Linked DNA regions of Homo sapiens: region 2 is linked to region 1. The links come from fine-mapping of genetic effects on gene expression. A gene starts in region 1. The other region holds a variant in brackets. All regions are shown on one strand. Distances are between the middles of the regions. Region 1 holds the start of DOCK9 (dedicator of cytokinesis 9). Region 2 holds the start of DOCK9-DT (DOCK9 divergent transcript).

Region 1 (8,000 bases):
GGCAGAAAGGCTATTGTCTAAGCATAATTTAATTAACTCAATCACAGTCACCTAAAGTCTAATTGAAAATTAACAACATGATCATTGCCCATAAGCTTATACCTCACTTAGTCTGCTATTTCTAGAGCAAACAGAACTTCAGGGATAGGAAAGATTTTCTAGTCTCATTCCTCCTCTGTCTGAGAGACAGAAGAGTTCCCAGATAAGGTACTGGTGTGTCCAACCAGAAGCCAAGTCCTACTACTACTTTCTACATCAAGTACTCGCACTGCCTTCTCACAGAGTTATTTAGCTAGAGTAATCACGTGGTCATTCAAACATTAAAATAAGAACTAAAATTCTGCTTTTAACACTTGAGGATCCCAGGAAAATATGAGCCACCCAAAAGGTGTCTCTGAAAAGAAACTTTTATTTTCTTTGAGACAAGGTCTTACTCTGTCACCCAGCCTGGAGTCCAGTGGCGTGATCTCTGCTCACTGCAGCCTCAACTCTCCCAGGCTCAAGCAATCCTCCCACCTCAGCCTCTCGAGAAGCTGGGACTATAGGTGCATGCCACCTCGTCTGGCTAATTTTTGTATTTTTTGTAGAGACGGAGTTTCGCCATGTTGCCCAAACTGGTTTTGAACTCCTGAGATCAAGCAATGCCCACCTTGGCCTCCTAAACTGCTGGGATTACAGACTTGAGCCACAGTGCCCGCTGATCCTTTTCAAAAAATACCTTATGAGTACACCTAATAGGAAAATTCAGCTCTTCTCAATCTTCACATCCTTCAACCTTAAAAATTCCCAAAATAAGACCTGTGCTGCAGTCCCTACCAGCCTCACAAAAGGAACCCAATGAAAGGGCTGCATAAATGGCATATAACCCAGCCTTTTTTGGCACTTTGAAGCCACACCTTTTTCCTCTAAACTGTTGAGCAGTAACAATTAGAATAAATTGTTTCCAGGAATTACGTTAGAGTTTTGAAGGGGGGTGGCGGGTAGGGGGTAAAAATAGGTATTCAAATGTGAGCAGGGAAACTAACATGCAGACATCAAGAATATCCTGCCTGTTCCCCTGGTAGTGATTTCTAGCCCCCAAAGCCATTTCTCAGTGGGGTTGGCAGTAAGCCTGGATAGAAATGGGGAAGTTTCACCATGTGCTTCCTCCCTCACTTACTGTCACAATGCAGGGGACAAGACCCACCCATGTAGGTGCCTGTAAGTTGAACCTTGCAGCCTCTGAAACTTTATAATGTCCAAACACATATTCTCTTGGAAACACTAACTTTTAGCCGGTCGCAGTGGCTCACACCTGTAATCCCAGCACTTTGGGAGGCCAAAGCAGGTGGATCACCTGGGGTCAGGAGTTCGAAACCAGCCTGACCAATATGATGACACCACGTCTCTACTAAAAATACAAAAATTAGTCGGGCATGGTGGCATGCGCCTGTAATTACAGCTACGCAGGAGGCTGAGACAGGAGAATCGCTTGAACTCAGGAGGCGGAGGTTACAGTGAGCCGAGATCATGCCATTGTACTCCAGCCTGGGCAACAAGAGCAACTCTGTCTCAAAAAAAAAAAAAAAAAAAAAAAAAGAACAACTCCACCTCCAAAAAAAGAAAGAAAAAGAAATACTAACTTTCCCTAACACTGAACAAGCAGCCACTGCTAAGGGAAACCTTCAAAGCGGCCCTGGCAGAGGAGAAAAAACATTACCACCAATCATAAGGGCAGGAGGGAACTTATGATAGAAAGTTTCTAGAACAAATACTGGCTTGCCTACATGCTTTAAGATCTACTTACAGGTACATTTATGGTAGCCTCATTACTAATGCAAACAATTAGAAACAAATTAAATAACGATCCAATTATAGTACAGACCTAAAATGAGATAATATGCAGCCATTAAAATAATGGCATAGGCCAGGTGCAGTGGCTCACGCCTGTAATCACACTTTGGGAAGCCGAGGCGGGCGGATCTCCTGAGGTCAGGAGTTCAAGACTGGCCTGACCAACATGATGAAACCCTGTCCCTACTAAAAATACAAAAATTAGCTGGGCATGGTGGCGGGCACCTATAATCTTAGCTACTCGGGAGGCTTGAACCCAGGAGACGGAGGTTGCAGTGGGCCGAGATCGTACCACTGCACTGCAACCTGGATGACAGAGTAAGACTTTGTCTCAAAAAAAAAAAAAGGCATAAATCCACATATGGTGACAAAAGATGTTACTGACGTGTTCTGGGAGAAAATCAATCCAGAAATCTACCATAATAGTATATTCTCTAAACACATACACACACACACACACACACACACACACACACACACAAGTTATACTGTTCTAGGCACAGGAGAAAGTCTGGAAGTATATACACTGAATTATTAATAATGGTCACCACTGGAGAGTAAAAACAAGGACACTGTCTTTCCTACTGCTACACTATTTGCATTTCTTGTTTTTCCTACTTCTATACTACACGCATTAATTAATTTTATCCGTTTTAATTTATGTAATATTTTTCCCCAAGGACTGTTTCTGTACATAACTAAAAACAGCAAAACTTTATTTCAAAATGCTACCTCCTGAATAAAGCATGTTACCTACATTTAAACGTCTCTAGGTATAATGCATTCAAATGATAGACAGTCTTGGGGATTCTTACCAAGCCCGTGGGCCACTGACATTCGAACAATGAATAGTACTGCCACAAACAGGTTGCACAATGGTGTCTGCCTCCTTCTGAAAAATCATCTTGAGAAACAAGTTGCCTTTCCAGCAGTCTGTTGAACTCTTGTTTGCCAGTGGGCAGCAACAGCCACAGGTAAGAGATCTGCCCTCGGCAAAGGCCCTGCTGAAATATCCTTGCTTCCCTGATCTGACATTAGCTCTTCTTATCTTGTTTACCCTGCTGGAAGAAGAGAAACACTGCCCGATAAGAAAAAACTTCTGGTATCACTGTTGGCTTCCTCACTCCCTCACCCCTCTCTGCAGGTGCGCAGAGCTGAGATCACACTGCCACAAGCTGCTGGGCCCTGACAAGTGTTCCCACCAAATGCAGCTGTAGCCAGCACAGCTTTATCCATTGCAGTGGAAAAAGACCCCCAGAGGAACTGCCTGGAGTGAGATTTACCTAAACAAATAGCTAGGACATAAATGGCAAATTTCTTGAGCACTAGAAAGAGAAGTAAGTTTAAGAAGTCACTTGTGTGCTTAAAAAAAAAAAATTGCATAGCATCTTTCTACAGTGTATTCAGTCCTGTAGACAAATATTTCTACACAGCTGGAGAATCACTGACAGAAGATTTTTAAGAATATTCACAAGGGAACCTAAACCACACAACTTCCTCCAAGAAATCCTAAGTTACATCAGCTGCTTTAAGCAGTGAAATCCATACAGCCTGTGAGCAACCCAACAGAGAAGTGGGCTATTATATTGGCAGCAAGGAATCCAGAACAATGAATTACATTTCTAAACAATGTAGCAGAGGGTGAAGAAAAGAAACCTAAATCTCTAAGATGAAAATCTGCAGTGAAAAAGACCATGATATTTTACTAACTTTTCAGTTCAGGGTTAGCAATATAGTTTTGAAGGCAATAAAATATAGGGCAGTCTCACGAGTCACAAAGAAAGCAACTCAGTTCAAATCAAATCTGTTATAGGAAAGTTTAAGTTCAGATTCTTAGACATTAATTGAAAATTAAGTAAATTAGTAAGCAAACACTTCATGGTAACATCAACTGAACCTCCACGTTAAAGAAAAAAAAAAATCACTAAATAAAATCACTACATATCAGTTTAACAATCTCTTTAGCAGATAATTTGAAAGGCTCAATTGTCCCCCCTCTGCAGGGCATGTTGGTGGTTTTGTGCAGCTTGCTTAAAAAATTATGTGCCTTTATTGTACTGAAGAAATTCCGAGAGAAGCACAACCTACTCACTGATGATAACAACACAACCATTTTTCACATTCCTCCCCTCCAAAGTCCACCAAAGCACTTGGCTTTAGACAAATGCTGAGAGTTTAGCTGATGTTAAGAACAGAAACGTTTCTATCAGCTGGTTCACAGTTTAGGTTCTTCCCTACTTTATTCAAGGCAAACCTCCTGGTAAAATGAGTGAGAAGAACATATGTGATTTTATCCTTTCTAAACTATGTAATATTTCCAACAGTTATGTTCCTTAAAACCCCCAATGGGACCTGCCTCATTTTCTCAATAGCATAAATAACGTAGAAAAGGTTTTAATTTTGCAAAGCACATCTTTTTTCAACCCTATAGTTGCAATTAAAATATGCTTCCTGGGTTTACATTTGCAAACACTGCAGCTAGGTGGGACATAATTGTGAACAATACATAATTGTCCCATACAAAGAAACCTCCCAGAAACCATATTCACCCACAAAATGTCAACATTTCTTTCTTCACAAAGAAGAATCAAAGGGGAATCGAAGTCATATTACAGGGAAAGAGTGGAGTTCACAAGGGACAAGCAGAGCAAGTTTTGAAATCAAAGACAGGCAACAGGCGTCAACCCCGTCCACACGCACAATAAGAACCCAGCATTGGGTAGACACAGCAACACTTTGTACGAGACCCTCTTACCGGCACAGGGCCCGGGCTCTCTGCTTCCACTTCGCCCTGAGCTGCATCCTTGTATTGCAGGGGGGACTCAATCACCAGTTCCTTTTTGACACTTCTACTACTTGTCCTGCATTTATCAGCCTGCATTCTCGGCTGAAAACGCAAGTCAGAAAGTCTGCAACTGGAACAGCTGCGAGTCCCTGGCCGTGCAAGGCACAGGCATGCCAGTGGTCCAAGGAAGGAAAGGAAACTGGCTTCCCAGGCACAAGTGGTCAGCCCCGCTGGCTGGGTCTGCAGAGCCTGTGGGGTGGGAAGGCATGACAGCAAAGGCCAGCCTCCAGGGGTGTTACTACTCCATGCAAAAGGGGAGGCTCCTACTTGCTGGCCAAAGGAAAACAAACTCCAAGCTGAACAATACACAGTGTACTGCCTCTCTGATAAAGACCGGCTTTATTGTGTCTGTTCCACACAGCGTGGGCCAAATCAATCGGAATCAAAATACTGCAGTGTTTAAAAGAAAACCAGTCACAGTTAGACTCCTTCATAATTACCTTAAATCTGAAGCTCGTGGAGCTTAAGAGACAGCAAGGTTGTCTGCTTGTTCTAAAATTCTTCCAGTTTTGGAATGCTTTCATTTGTGTTATGGTTAAAAACCAAATGCCTGGCTGATGATTAAAGCAGGGAAGAGCTACCAGCAAGTATGTTCCCATAGCCTGCACCTCGTGGATACAGGTGGAGGAAATGAGTTTCACCCCGCATGACAGACCACAGCATGAAACACTTAATTTATGTACTATTTGATGCCAGAAAGATGAGGTCATCAAAACATTTTCATGGGATACCACATATCATAGTAAATGCATTTATTAAACAGAATATTACTTTAAGTCCAGATGTGTGGGTATCAGAAGGTACCCCCAGTACTAGGTGCTGAGAGGATCATACTAAAAGTATAAGGTAGAGTATCTCTCCCTTCAAAGAACTTCACATCTAGCTGGGAAGGCAAGAAGAGCAGACATCATAAATGACAAATTAATAAAATTAAGAGAGAGATGCACAAAAGCACGGGAAAATAGCTGGATCACCAACCTACGGTTCAATGGTGGTTTAGTAGCACCCAAAATATGTGTTCCTAAAAGTCTGTATTTTTATTATTTCCTCACATTTAACAGTGGAGTCTTTTTTACCTCTTGGGAAAAATTAAAACAGAGGTATTAAGGGATTTGTCTAAAAGTTATGTAGAAATGAACATTAAAGGGGGGATCAAATATTACTCTGTACTTCATGGATACCGCAGAGCTTTTCCTAGTTACTCTGAGTATTTCCTGGACATCAGGGAAGATTTAGTAACAGTAGACAACAAGCAGCAGCAGCAGCAGCAGCCGTAGCAGTAGCAGTAACAGCAGTAGCAGCAGCAATAGTAGTAGTAGTAGTAGTAGTAGTAGTAGTAGTAGTAGTAGTAGTAGTAGCAGCAGCGGCGGCAGCAGCAGCAGCAGTATTCAGTCAGTCAACAACGAGAGTAGTTATCATGTAGCAACAATAGGTGCCAGAGGAACTCTACCCAGGGAAATAACATAAACTATTATACAAGTCACAGGTAAAAGTCTCCCACTTTCCAGACAAAGGAACGCAGCCAGGAGGGCTCAGAGGAGGCAGTGGGGAGAACTGAGATGCCACCCAGTCCTCGCACAGCCGCCTCCCTCTCCTAGCACCTGCTGCAGCTGCTCTACTTCAAGAGTGAAGCTGAAGCTGGGTCTCTGCCACTTGAACACCAGGAACCCTTCTGAGTGTGAATATCAATTATGTAACGATCTCAAAGGATCAATGAGTCCATCAAATAAATTAATGGCTTCTATAATTTTTTTTAAACTACCCAATCTCTCAACCTTGGGTAGTCTTTCAGGGTTAATAGAAGTCCCCCTACCAAATCTGTGTTCCAAAATAATATTATCTATAAATTTTAAAAATCTTTCTTTGTAAAGTTACAACAGAAAAAACCCAGTAAGAAAAAACTCTCACTTACCTATAGAGTCGAAATTATAGTAAAGTAAAAACTTAGGAATGTCCTACAAATCAAAGAAAGGATGAAGCCACAAGCACAAAACAGACTAACTGAGCCTTAGTAAAGGACAGCCCAACCAACAACTCAGAAACCTTTTTGAGATGGTTCAGGAAGTTCTAAATAGTCCAGTTCTTCCTCAAATCCCCATCGCCATTAAGCCATCAGAATGTCTGGGCATTAATAAGAGAAATGCTATTCTATTTGTTATTGTTGTTGTTTGAGACAGGGTCTTGCTCTGTAGTCCAGGCTGAGTGCAGGGGCTCGATCATGGCTCACTGCAGTCTTGACCTCCTGGAGTCAAGGATCTTCCTGCCTAAGCCCCTCAAGTAGCAGGAACTAGAGGTGTGAGCCACTGTGTTCAGCCTACCCTATTTGTTGGGTCAAAATACCCTGGTATTCTGTAAGGAATGAGAAATGAACTTTAAGATATTTATTTGACAAACACTGTAAGTGCTGGCTATGGCCCATGCCTGTTCAAGCCCTACAAAGATTGTTTATTTAATCTTCATAACTCTATGTAATACTGTTATCCTCATTTGACAGATGAGGAAACTGATGCCCAGAGACGTTAAATACTTGCAGAACGTTATACAGAGAGCAGGGGCAATATGGATCCAGTGTACACACGCTTAACCATGATACTATGTTCAAACTGCTAAAAGGCACAATACCAATCACCAGTCAGCAATTAAAGACAGCAGCATCTGGCTTTAACCCTATCATGGAAGTGAAGAGGTAAAAAGGTCTTTAGATGGCCTTTAGCCTTTAAGTGCCTTGTGCAAAGCAGGTATTCATTTGATGGTAACTACTGTATTGTTGCTGTTCTCATTCCAACCTGAAGAAATTAATTTTAGTCTTAAACTCAGGGCTTTTGCTGTGTGATCTAAAATGACAATTCCACCAACCGTGTTGCTATCACACATTACAAAGCGCTTCAGCAACTTAGCATCAACCATTCTTCCCTCTCTGTGGCTTGATTATGACAGCTGCCTTCAAATATTCATTTTGAACCCCACATGTTCATGTCATGAGCCAGGCCTTCTTCTTGAAGTTTTTCTATATTTTTCAAAATGGTTAGCAATGACTATATTTTTGTTTTATGATCAAGGAAAACACTTTTAATTTGCTCTGAGTTTCCAAGTAGCCAGGACAAAAAGGAAAACATGATCAGTTCCATAATATATAACATCAAAAGGAGAAAATATATCAAGTTGTAAAGCAAGTAATTTGTTTTTTGTTTTTTTTTTTTCAAGGCAGGGTTTGGCTCTGCTGCCCAGACTGGAGTGCAGTGGTGCAATCTCAGCTTACTGCAACCTCCACCTCCTGGGCTCATGCAATCCTCCCATCTCAGCCTCCCAAGTAGCTGGGACT
Region 2 (9,881 bases), 110 kb after region 1:
AGGAGTGGCATCACTGGCAAGTGCTTGACATCGAAGAAGAGTTTGAAGTTGAACATAGTGAGATAAGATCAGTAAGGAAGCCGGGCAGCCAGAAGACTTGTATATTAATACCCAAGTGCAGGACAGTCAGCATGCCCATGCAAAGGGATGTGACCTGATATTCACACAAATCTTTCAGAGAAAGGACACTTGTAGGCTTTGAGTGGTATTAATACATCCTCTTAGATCTAGGTCATTATGATGCCATCTTTAATACATCTGAAAGACCTGAGGTAAAATCCTTTCAGGAGCTCTAAAAGTAATCATAACTCAACCCTGCTCAGGGAATTCTTTCTAGCTTTTCTTCTGAGTTCGCGTACGTTTTGAACATGCTACCTTCCTGACTATTCTAAATTATGGAAAGCTAATTCTGAAATTGTGAGGATTCTTCCTTCATTACCAAACATTATAAATTACTTTTCCTACAGTTAAAAATGTTCCTAGTAGCACCTCCACTACTTTTATAAAAGCAGCTTAGGGCTGGGTATGCTGGCTCGCACCTGTAATCCCAGGAGTTTGGGATTGCTTGAGCCCAGTTCAAGACCAGCCTAGGCAACAGGGCAAAACCCCATCTCTAAAAAAAAATACAAAAATTAGCTAGGCGTGGTGGTGCATGCCTGTAATCCCAGCTACTCTGGAGGCTGAGGTAAGAGGATTGCTTGTACCCGGGAGTTCAAAGGCTGCAGCAAGCCATGATCATGCCACTACACTCCAGCCTGGGTGACAGATTAAGATGGTCTCTAAAAGAATAATAAATAAGGCCGGGCGCAGTGGCTCACCCCTGTAATCCTAGCACTTTGGGAGGCCGAGGTGGGCGGATCACCTGAGGTGAGGAGTTCAAAACCAGCCTGGCCAAATTGGCAAAACCCCGTCTCTACTAAAAATACAAAAAATTAGCCGGGTGTGGTGGTGGGCGCCTATAATCTCAGCTACTCAGGAGGCTGAGGCAGGAGAACCACTTGAACCCGGGAAGCGGAGGTTGCAGTGAGCCAAGATCATGCCACTGCACTCCAGCCTGGGTGAAAAGAGCAAGACTCCATCTCAAAAAAATAATAATAATAAATAAATAAATAAATAAATAAATAAATAAAAAAAAACAGCTTCAAATAGAAGCCCATTGGTGGAATAAGGGACTCTAGAAAAACCGAGTATGCCTCTTATTTAACAGAGCAGGAACCTTGAAGTTCAGAGACATTAAGCAACAGTCCAAGGGGACTTAAGTAGCTGGTAGAATATACGCCAGCCACTGCCTAAGAGCTTCACCCACATAGCTCAATTAATCCTTCCAACAACAATACAAGGAAAGCATAATTATTATCTCCAATCTACAGATGAAGAAACTGAGCCCCAACAAGGTTAAGTTATATACCTAAGATTGTACAGCTGGTGAGGCATAAAACCAGGTTTACAACCCATGCTCTAAACTACTAAACCTCTAAGATTAAAACCCAGAAGTCCTGACCCCATGGAGGGTTCTCTCCATTATAAAGAATTCTGTCTGGGTGTGGTGGTTCACGCCTGTAATCCCAGCACTTTGGGAGGCCGAGGCAGGCAGATCACCTGAGCTCAGGAGTTTGAGACCAGCCTAGCCAACATGATGAAACCTCATCTCTACTAAAAACACAAAAATCAGCTGGGCATGGTAGAACACACCTGTAATCCCAGCTACTCCGGAGGCTGAGGCCAGAGAATCACCTGAATCTGGGAGGCGGAGGTTGCAGTGAGCCGAGATCACGCCACTGCACTCCAGCCTGGGTGACAGAACAAGACTCCATCTCAGAAAAAAAAAAAAAGAATTCTAAGGCTCATGAAAGAGCTAACCATGTTTGACAAGGCCTACAAAGCTTTTTTAGGTCCTTATTAGAACAAACTAACAATCAAATATTTTTTAATATAATCTGGGAAATGTGAAGAGCATACTAACAAGTTGTTAATTTTATTATGACACAGTTATGTAAGAATAGACCCTATTTTTAAGTAACATATACTAGTTATATAGAGGTGAAATGATATAAGGCCTGGGACTCACAATCACACATGAAAAATAATAGGAAGAAGAGACATATGAAGCAGGTTTGGCAAAATCTCAATAATTATTCAATCTGGATGATGAAATATGAAGGTTCATTATACTATTCTCTCTACTTTTTGTATGCTTATTTTCAAGCTTTTCAAACAAATTAATACAAAATCATTCATGAAAGTCCATGAACCTGAACACATGAAAAATGAAGCTATTGAACAATGAAAAATGGATAAGCCCACATTATGTTTACATTTTAAAGCTTGTTTTTAATGGCAGCCTTTATCATCCACTGAACTATTTCATTTTGTTGTTTCTGATCTCATGACCATCCACTCATCAATACTTGAAGTGTGGGAAGAGCTACTAAACCCACACATAGTTTAATTTTTTTTAAATCCATCTGCAGAACTGCTTTATTAGCTAGATAAGAATATTTATTGAGCATTTATGTTGTGGGCATTGTATTAGTGCTGACCCAAGTTATCAGACACAGAGTAATTATTTCCATCTAAGGACAGATGCACAGACCATGGGATTCTGAACCTGGCGTGGTTGCTGCTCTGCCTCCTGAGAAGTCCAGGGTTACCTTACCTCACCTCTTAGACCTTCATACAACAAAGCCCGGCCAGAACTTATGTGGCAGGTGCACCTGCTGTGGCTCCCTGGCAGACACTGGAGCCACTAGAGGAAGTAAGCAGTGGCAGAGTACCAGGAAGGAGGTGGGGGGATGAGGTGTGTGGGTAATTTTCAGTATCTGTAAGCCCTCCCAGATTCTTCCTTCTGCAATTCAGAACCATCACAATGCATTTCCTATTTCCCATTCAGCCAGGGGCCCTCACATGCCAGAGCAGGCCCACCTGCTTCCCTGCATTTTGTATCTGTTCCATCACAGGTTTCATCAGACAAGTGACCACAGACAGACGAGACTAAGAGTTAAGACAACAGCCGGGCATCTGGCTCTTCATGCTTAAGGGTGTCCAGGGAAAACGGATGTACTACTAAAGTATCATGAGATAACACAGTTGGCAGCCTGTCACACGTGGGAATGGACACTCCTAGGTCACCATTAGTAGGCCATCCTCCGATGGGAAGGGCAGATATTCGGGGACTACTGCACATCAGCAGTGTTGTGTCTGCACCAGCACTCCTGGGCTCCATCTACACGGCTTATTAAACCAGTACCTGCAGCACTTTGGAAATCATGGCACACTGGTACACTTTATTTACTCTTCTTCTGCCTCAAATCCCTGATGACCACGGCAGGCCCCAGATAAAGGAACCAACTTCTGTGTGAGAACAGAAAAGATGCCAAAGAAGTTGCAGGCTTTATCCTTAACATGCACTGGCAAAACTCAGGAAGATGCAGGAAGCCACACAGAAGTTAGCTGGTTATGGAAGAGATGGCCAGGTTCTGGTCTATTCCCAACTCCTGCTCTACTCCTTACCTAATCGACTTCCCTAAAATAGAAAAATTAAATCCTTGTTTACTATGGATCAAACTGGAGTTGGAGAAATTTGGAGTTGGCAGAGCTAGCAATCGAGAGAAAATTCAAACTGAGCAAACTGGATATAGAAATCAGCGAAGCTTCATCTCCAATCTCCACAAACGTCATTCACGCAATTCTGTGTCTGCCCAGGAAGGGCATCGATCTGCCACCAAAATGATGCATCCGCCCCTGTGTTAAGGGGCCCGGCACTCTGCCCCGACAATCCCCCACAGGGCCCAGACAACCACTTCCAAGGCCCATCTTCTTGCACTGTTCCAACAAACACAAGTCACACCCACCCACAAACAAGCCCGTTTCAAGAAAACAAATGCCGGCGGCAACGCAAGGAGCTGCTAAAAGTTTCCAGCTGCCCTGCAGAGCTCGCTCCTGCTCAAACGTCGCTCCACTCCCGCACCATCCAGGTGAATCGGGTTGTAGTGCGTTTCCAAATACAGCAGGACCGGCGCTGGCTGTGAAAAAGTTAATCGAAAACTTCATCTTCCTCACACCCAGAGGCCTATTCTCTAAAGACGTTCTGCCACGGGAAGATTCGTTTTGGGCTGATGGCTTTGCTTACTTAGAACCCCCAAACGTCACAGGAATTTGCACCAATACTAAATTAGCGAGGGTTCCCATCATGCCCCCCAAGCCTTCCTAAAAGGCGGCCAAACTTCAGGATACCGGCTTGGAGGTGGGGGGCGCAGGAGAGGATGCCGAAGTCCTTCCCTCCTGGAGTTCAGCCAACTCAAAGGGTTAGCAGGGGCATCTCCCACCCTGAGCGCAGACTGGATGAGGAAGCCCCCACCTCAATTCCCCTGCGCCCCTCCAAAACATGGAAGGAGAGGGAGGCCGGGGGAGGGATACGGGGGAGGGATGCGGGGGAGGGGGGAGAGTGTAATTTCCCAGTTGACAGAAAGCAGGTAAATTGGGAGAGAGCGGGGTGAAAAGAGTGACAGGGCGACATCACTCTGCGGAAATTTCCCAGGAGGAAGGGGACAGCGATGGGGACAGGATCTTGGGTGGCGGGGAGGGGTCTGGGAGTTGCAGCCCCTCCAGGACCTTCTCTTCTCCCCTGTCCAACTCCCTCCCGCCGGCCCCACCTCTTGATTCCGCGGACCCAGCAGGGTCGGCCGCTCTGCCTCAGCCCTGCCGACTAAGAGGCGCCCGGCCCGGGGCCCGCAGCTGCCTGCGCCCCCGCCATCCTCCCCCGGCCCGCGGTCGTCCCGCACTCACCAGGAGCACGGAGCCGCGCACCACCTCAGACACGCTCTGCCGCAGCTCGGCCGCCGTGCCCGGCTTACTCAGCGCCC[G/A]GGTGAACTTCCGAGTCTCCGCCGAGGCGGGGAGCAGCGGCGGCTGCGACATCCTCCTGCCCCCGCCGCCTCCGCCTCCGCCTGCTCCCGCGGCCCGGCCCGGCCGCGCGGCCGCCAGGTGCGCCCTCGGCGCCCGGCCCGCTCCGCCCGCCGCTCCCGGCGCCGCCGCCGCCTGCTCCCCCCGCTGCTCGCCGCGAGTCCGGCCGCCGCAGCCCAGGCCGCGCCCTCTGCACCGTGTCACGCCCCAAGGCGCCCCCCTCGGCGTCCGCGGCCCCCCGCGATCGCAGCAGCGCCCGGGCTCGCTCCGGGCGACCGTGCGTGTGGCGGCGGCGGCTCCCCCATGCCACCAGCCTCCCTCGGCGACCACTCGCCGGGCCGCCTCCTCGGGGCGGGGTGTCCGGCGCGGCGCGGGCGGGGCGGGGCGCCCGGACGGCGGAGGAGGGGCCGCCGCGGCGGGACGGCGGGCCAGGCAGGTCGGCGCGGCCCGGCGCTGGAGCTAGGCGGCCGGACTGGCAGGGGCGGCGTGCCGCGCGGGACCCTCACTGGGGAAGGTGGGGGGTCGGGGCCGCCTCCGCCCCGGGCCGCACGTCCGAAGACCGGAGGAGGGGACTGCGCACGCCACCAAGAGGGCGCACAGCCGAGGCTGGACGATGCGCGGTTTCGGAGCAGGGTTTCCTGCCCAGGGAGCCCGGCTGCGCTCGAGGGGACCCCGAAGTCACCGGCAGGGTCGGAGCTCGGTGCACCACGCCCCCCCTCTGCGCCCGGGGCCTCTGCGGGGACAGAGGTCTCAGGAAAGTAGCCTTTATTTATGTGGCACCGATCGGAACCCGCGGCCGGCCAGGCGGACCTGGACGGAGCGTCCCTGCTCGGAACCTGGCGCGGGGCGCCGCGCGCTCGTGTGGCGCCTCGGCCTCCCCACCGTTCAGTCCCCGGAGGCACGGAGCTCGCGGCGGGACGATGACGGTTGGGCCGGGCCAGGCGTGGGAGACTCCCAGACTCCGGCCCGCCGGGACGGCCAGCTGCGTCACCTTGGACGTGGGCAATACTTCGGAGCCTCGGTTATGTCGCCTGTAACCTGAGGACAACGGCCTGGAAGGGGCTCAGGTGACACGGCGGCCCTCACTGGGGCCGATTTAGCCGGTCTGCCGCCCCTCCGCGCCGGACCGCCAGGCGGGGTACCAGGGAAACTGCGATGCGCCGGCTTGCGAGCCCACCGTGACGCAGAGCTGGCGGCCGCTAGCGACAGCCACCCTGTGAGGGACTTTCCCCCCAATACCCTAACCGCTTTCCTGTCCCTAAGGGCCCGCTCCCGCCCCGGCTCCGTTTCTGTCTCTCTGAGGAAGCCCGGCGCAGCCTAACCCTCACAGGGCCGCGGAGAGGGCGCGCCAGGCGGGGATTTGCGCCAGGCCCGCGGCGCATGCTCAGTGGTTGGGGACTGGGCGGGTACCCCGGGCGGGGAGCCTGACTGAACGGCGGCTCTGCTGATTGGTCGGGCTGCTCACGCCACGCCCGTTGCCTTCCGATGGACAGTTCCTTACCTGCCGGGTCGGCCTCCGCAGAGAGTGGTGGTCTTGAAAACCCAGTTTTGGGAGAATACCTGCCGCGCCTCCCGCCCAAATACCCAGAGGTTTCATAGCCGCCATCGCTGCGGTGGAGGAGGCCGCCTGTTGCGTCCCACCCCACCAGAAAGCCTAACACTGGCCTGAAGCGTAATCTTAAAGTGGTAGGGGAAAATACCGATCTAGCGCAGAGAGCAAAACACCTCCGTTCTGGGTTTAATGGGCAGGTCTGGAGGTGAGGTATGCCGTCCGCACTCAATAATTACTTGCAGGATCGGATTGTTTCTCCAGTGGGTGGGGACTGCAGGATGTAGCATTGAGTGAGCCTGGCAGATTGAAAGATAAAACAAGGGTGATGATAAAAACAATTACACACTAACCCATTTCCTCCTCCGTGAAATGAGGGAATGGCCCAGACATTTTCCAGACCTCTTCTGTCCTAAGAGTGGAGCTGGGTGACAGAGCAGGTGCAAGCCGGCCTTTCCCTGCCTCCCCGGGGAACGCACTCTGTTCGGTGAGAGCAACTCAGCTCGCATTGACTCCTTTCAGCTGCAGGAGTGTGGCCGTTCAGTTCTCATTTGAACTGTTGACAACAGTTGTCTTCTGAGAATCATGAGTTAGAGCCTCCCTTTAGGCTTCTGACTCCCTCAAAAGTACCAGACAACACAAACTTTTCCCCTCTTGTTACCTTGGCTCTCTAAGCTGTATCTACTTCTATACAAGGCGAACAATTTTGTCTTTTTAAATTAAAAACAACAACAAAAGCACCTAAGGTTGTAGGGTTTTATATTCTTTTTTCTTTTCTTTTTTTAAGAGCTATATGATTACAGTAGAGTGTGTGTGTGTGTGTGTGTGTGTGTGTGTGTGTGTAGTCTAAAGAACAAAATTTCAACAAATGGTTTTAAAGATCTAATTGGCTTCTATTAGCAATGCATGAACCAGGCAGCATTCTGACTACAAAATAGACGGGAGCTCTTGTGGGAATGGAAGAACAGCTGGGTTTTGTTAAGGTAACTTAAGCAGGAACAAGGGAAAAGCATAGTGCCGAAAGCACATCGGGTAACTTCAGGTTACTCTCCTTTATGGGTTAAAGCAGAGGGGGCTGCCTTAGCTGGCTCAGGCTGACTGGGCCCCGTTTGACTGGTTGCTGTGAATCTCCTGGTTTTTGGAAAACTGGCCCTTTTGGGGATTTTCCTGTTTTTTAAAATCTCTGTTTAGTTACGTGGCACCTAACACAGTGGCTTCATTTTAGTCTGGTCTGTTGGGGCCTAGTTCAGGAGCTCAGTCCAAGACAATGACCTACCATAAATTTTATTTAAATATATGTATATCTGGAAAGTGAAGAATTCCCCAAACCTACCAATTTTATCCATATCTCTACCACTCCTAAATTCTGTACTTACTTGCTGATTCAGTATATTCTAGAATTGGCAGATTTTCATTTAGGAAGCAGAGAACAACAGACAATGTGCCAACAGTAGTCACTGGCAATGTCTAACCAAGCACAGGTTCTGACAGACAAGGCGGCATGGAAACGTGAACTAAGCCCAGGAAGATGGACCCAGCAACCCAGAGTGGAGCCTCTTCTTCCTGGTGAAGTGCTGTTGATAACAAATGGGACATTCCTAGTGTTAAAGTTTCAGCAGAAACTTGGTCCCTACTGTTCTGGGTTGAATTGTAGTCCCCCAAAAGATATATTGAAGTTCCAAACCCAGTACCTGTGAATGTGGCCTTATTGGAAATAGGTCTTTGCACATGTAACCAACTTAAGGTGAGGTCCTACTGGAATAGGTGGGCCCTAATTCAGTATGAATGGTTGTTTGTTTGTTTGTTTGTTTGTTTGTTTTGACAGAGCCTCACTCTGTTGCCCAGGCTGGAGTGCTGTGGTGCAGTCTCAGCTCACTGCAGCCTCTGCCTCCCAGGAGGCTGGGATTACAGGCACCTGTCACCACACCTGGCTAATTTTTTGTATTTTTAGTAGAGAAGGGGTTTTGCCATGTTGGCCAGGCTGAGGTCAGGTCGAACTCCTGACCTCAGGTGATCCGCCCATCTCAGCCTCCCAAGGTGCTGGGATTACAGGCGTGAGCCACCACGCCCAGCCTGAATGGTGTCTTTATAAGAAGAGACACAAATACATACACAAAGGAAAAATACTATGTGACAACAAAGGTAGGAAGGAGAATACTGCACACCTGCAAGCCACAGAACAGCAAGGATCACTGGGAACCACCAGAAACTGGAAGAGGCAAGGAAGGATTCTTCCCTAAAGTCATCAGAGGGAGCATGGCCTGCTGACACCTTGACTTCAGAATTCTAGCCTCTAGAACAGTGACAGAAGAAATTCTGTTGTTTTAAGTTTGTGGAACTTTTACAGCAGTCCTGGGAAACCAACATGCTGGCCAAAGGCTATTTTTAAAATTTCCACCAGAGTGGGCCTGGAATTGTGTGAATTCTTTTGGCATCACTATTTCCTGGAGAGCAGTCATACCTACAGAGGGGCAGAGCATCAGCCCAAAAGAGGGTGCTACCTGGCTACCTGGGATGAGGCTGACCTCTGGCTGGACTGGGTGGATGGTGTCTCAGGTACGGTAGAAGATACATCCACCTACATTAGCTTGATGGAGTAACCTCATCTTTGTTTTTCCAAACTATAGGAAGAAAGCTTTTCTTTCTGTTGAAAATTATACTAGTAGGTAGTGGAGATGAAATATAATTGCAGCCAGTTCTGAAATTTGCATGTAAATGACTGTACTACACCCAAATTTATAATTCAAGCATTACTCATGTTTAATGATAACCTCTTACTACATCATTTCCTTGTTAAGTTTGCTTTAGGATTTGTATGTGTCTTAATAACATATAATTAGTTTAAAATCTTTTCTGGATATATCTTGAAAGAGTATATCTGTTTTTAGCAAAAATAACAAGTGACCCATAAAAAGGAGGCACTCCTGTGCACTGTCACAGGGAAGTGTGAAAGGGGACTTTCGTTCTTTATTTTATCCTTGCACTGATTGAATTTTATTTATTTATTTATTTTGAGACAGATTATTGCTCTGTTGTCCAGGAAGGAGAGCAGTGGTGCCATCATAGCTCGCTGCAGCCTTGAACTCCTGGGCTCAAGCAATCCTCCCACCTCACCCTGCCAAGTAGCTCAGAGGACAGGTGCATGCCACCACGCCCACCTAATTTTTTTTACTATTTGTTGATACAGGGTCTCACTATGTTGCCCAGGCTGGTATCAAACTTCTGAGCTCAAGTGATCCTCCTACCTTGACCTCCCAAAGTTCTGGGATTATAGGTGTAAGCCACCGTGCCCGGCCTGACTGAATTTTTTTAATGAACATTCACTACCTTTATACTTCATTTATTAGGTTGGTGCAAAAGTAATTGCATCTTTTATTTCAGTGGCAAAAACTGCAATTACTTTTGCACCAACCTAAAAACTTTTTTTTTTTTT

The links.
Region 2: its variant is fine-mapped to the expression of DOCK9 in fibroblasts (GTEx, PIP 0.98).

What each region holds. Positions count from the first base shown.
Region 1 is chr13:98,973,196-98,981,195 of GRCh38, forward strand. It overlaps DOCK9 (dedicator of cytokinesis 9), which reads right to left and starts at 4,869. Exons shown (of 53, transcript NM_001366683.2): 1 at 4,589-4,869. The coding sequence starts at 4,714.
Region 2 is chr13:99,081,438-99,091,318 of GRCh38, forward strand. DOCK9-DT (DOCK9 divergent transcript) reads left to right here and starts at 5,286. Exons shown (of 1, transcript NR_047482.1): 1 at 5,286-7,188. It also overlaps a transcript of DOCK9 not described here. RefSeq lists silencers at 4,618-5,097, 5,138-5,447, 5,538-5,597, 6,178-6,407 and enhancers at 5,288-5,849, 6,412-6,971. The variant G/A (reference allele first, on the strand shown) is at 4,863.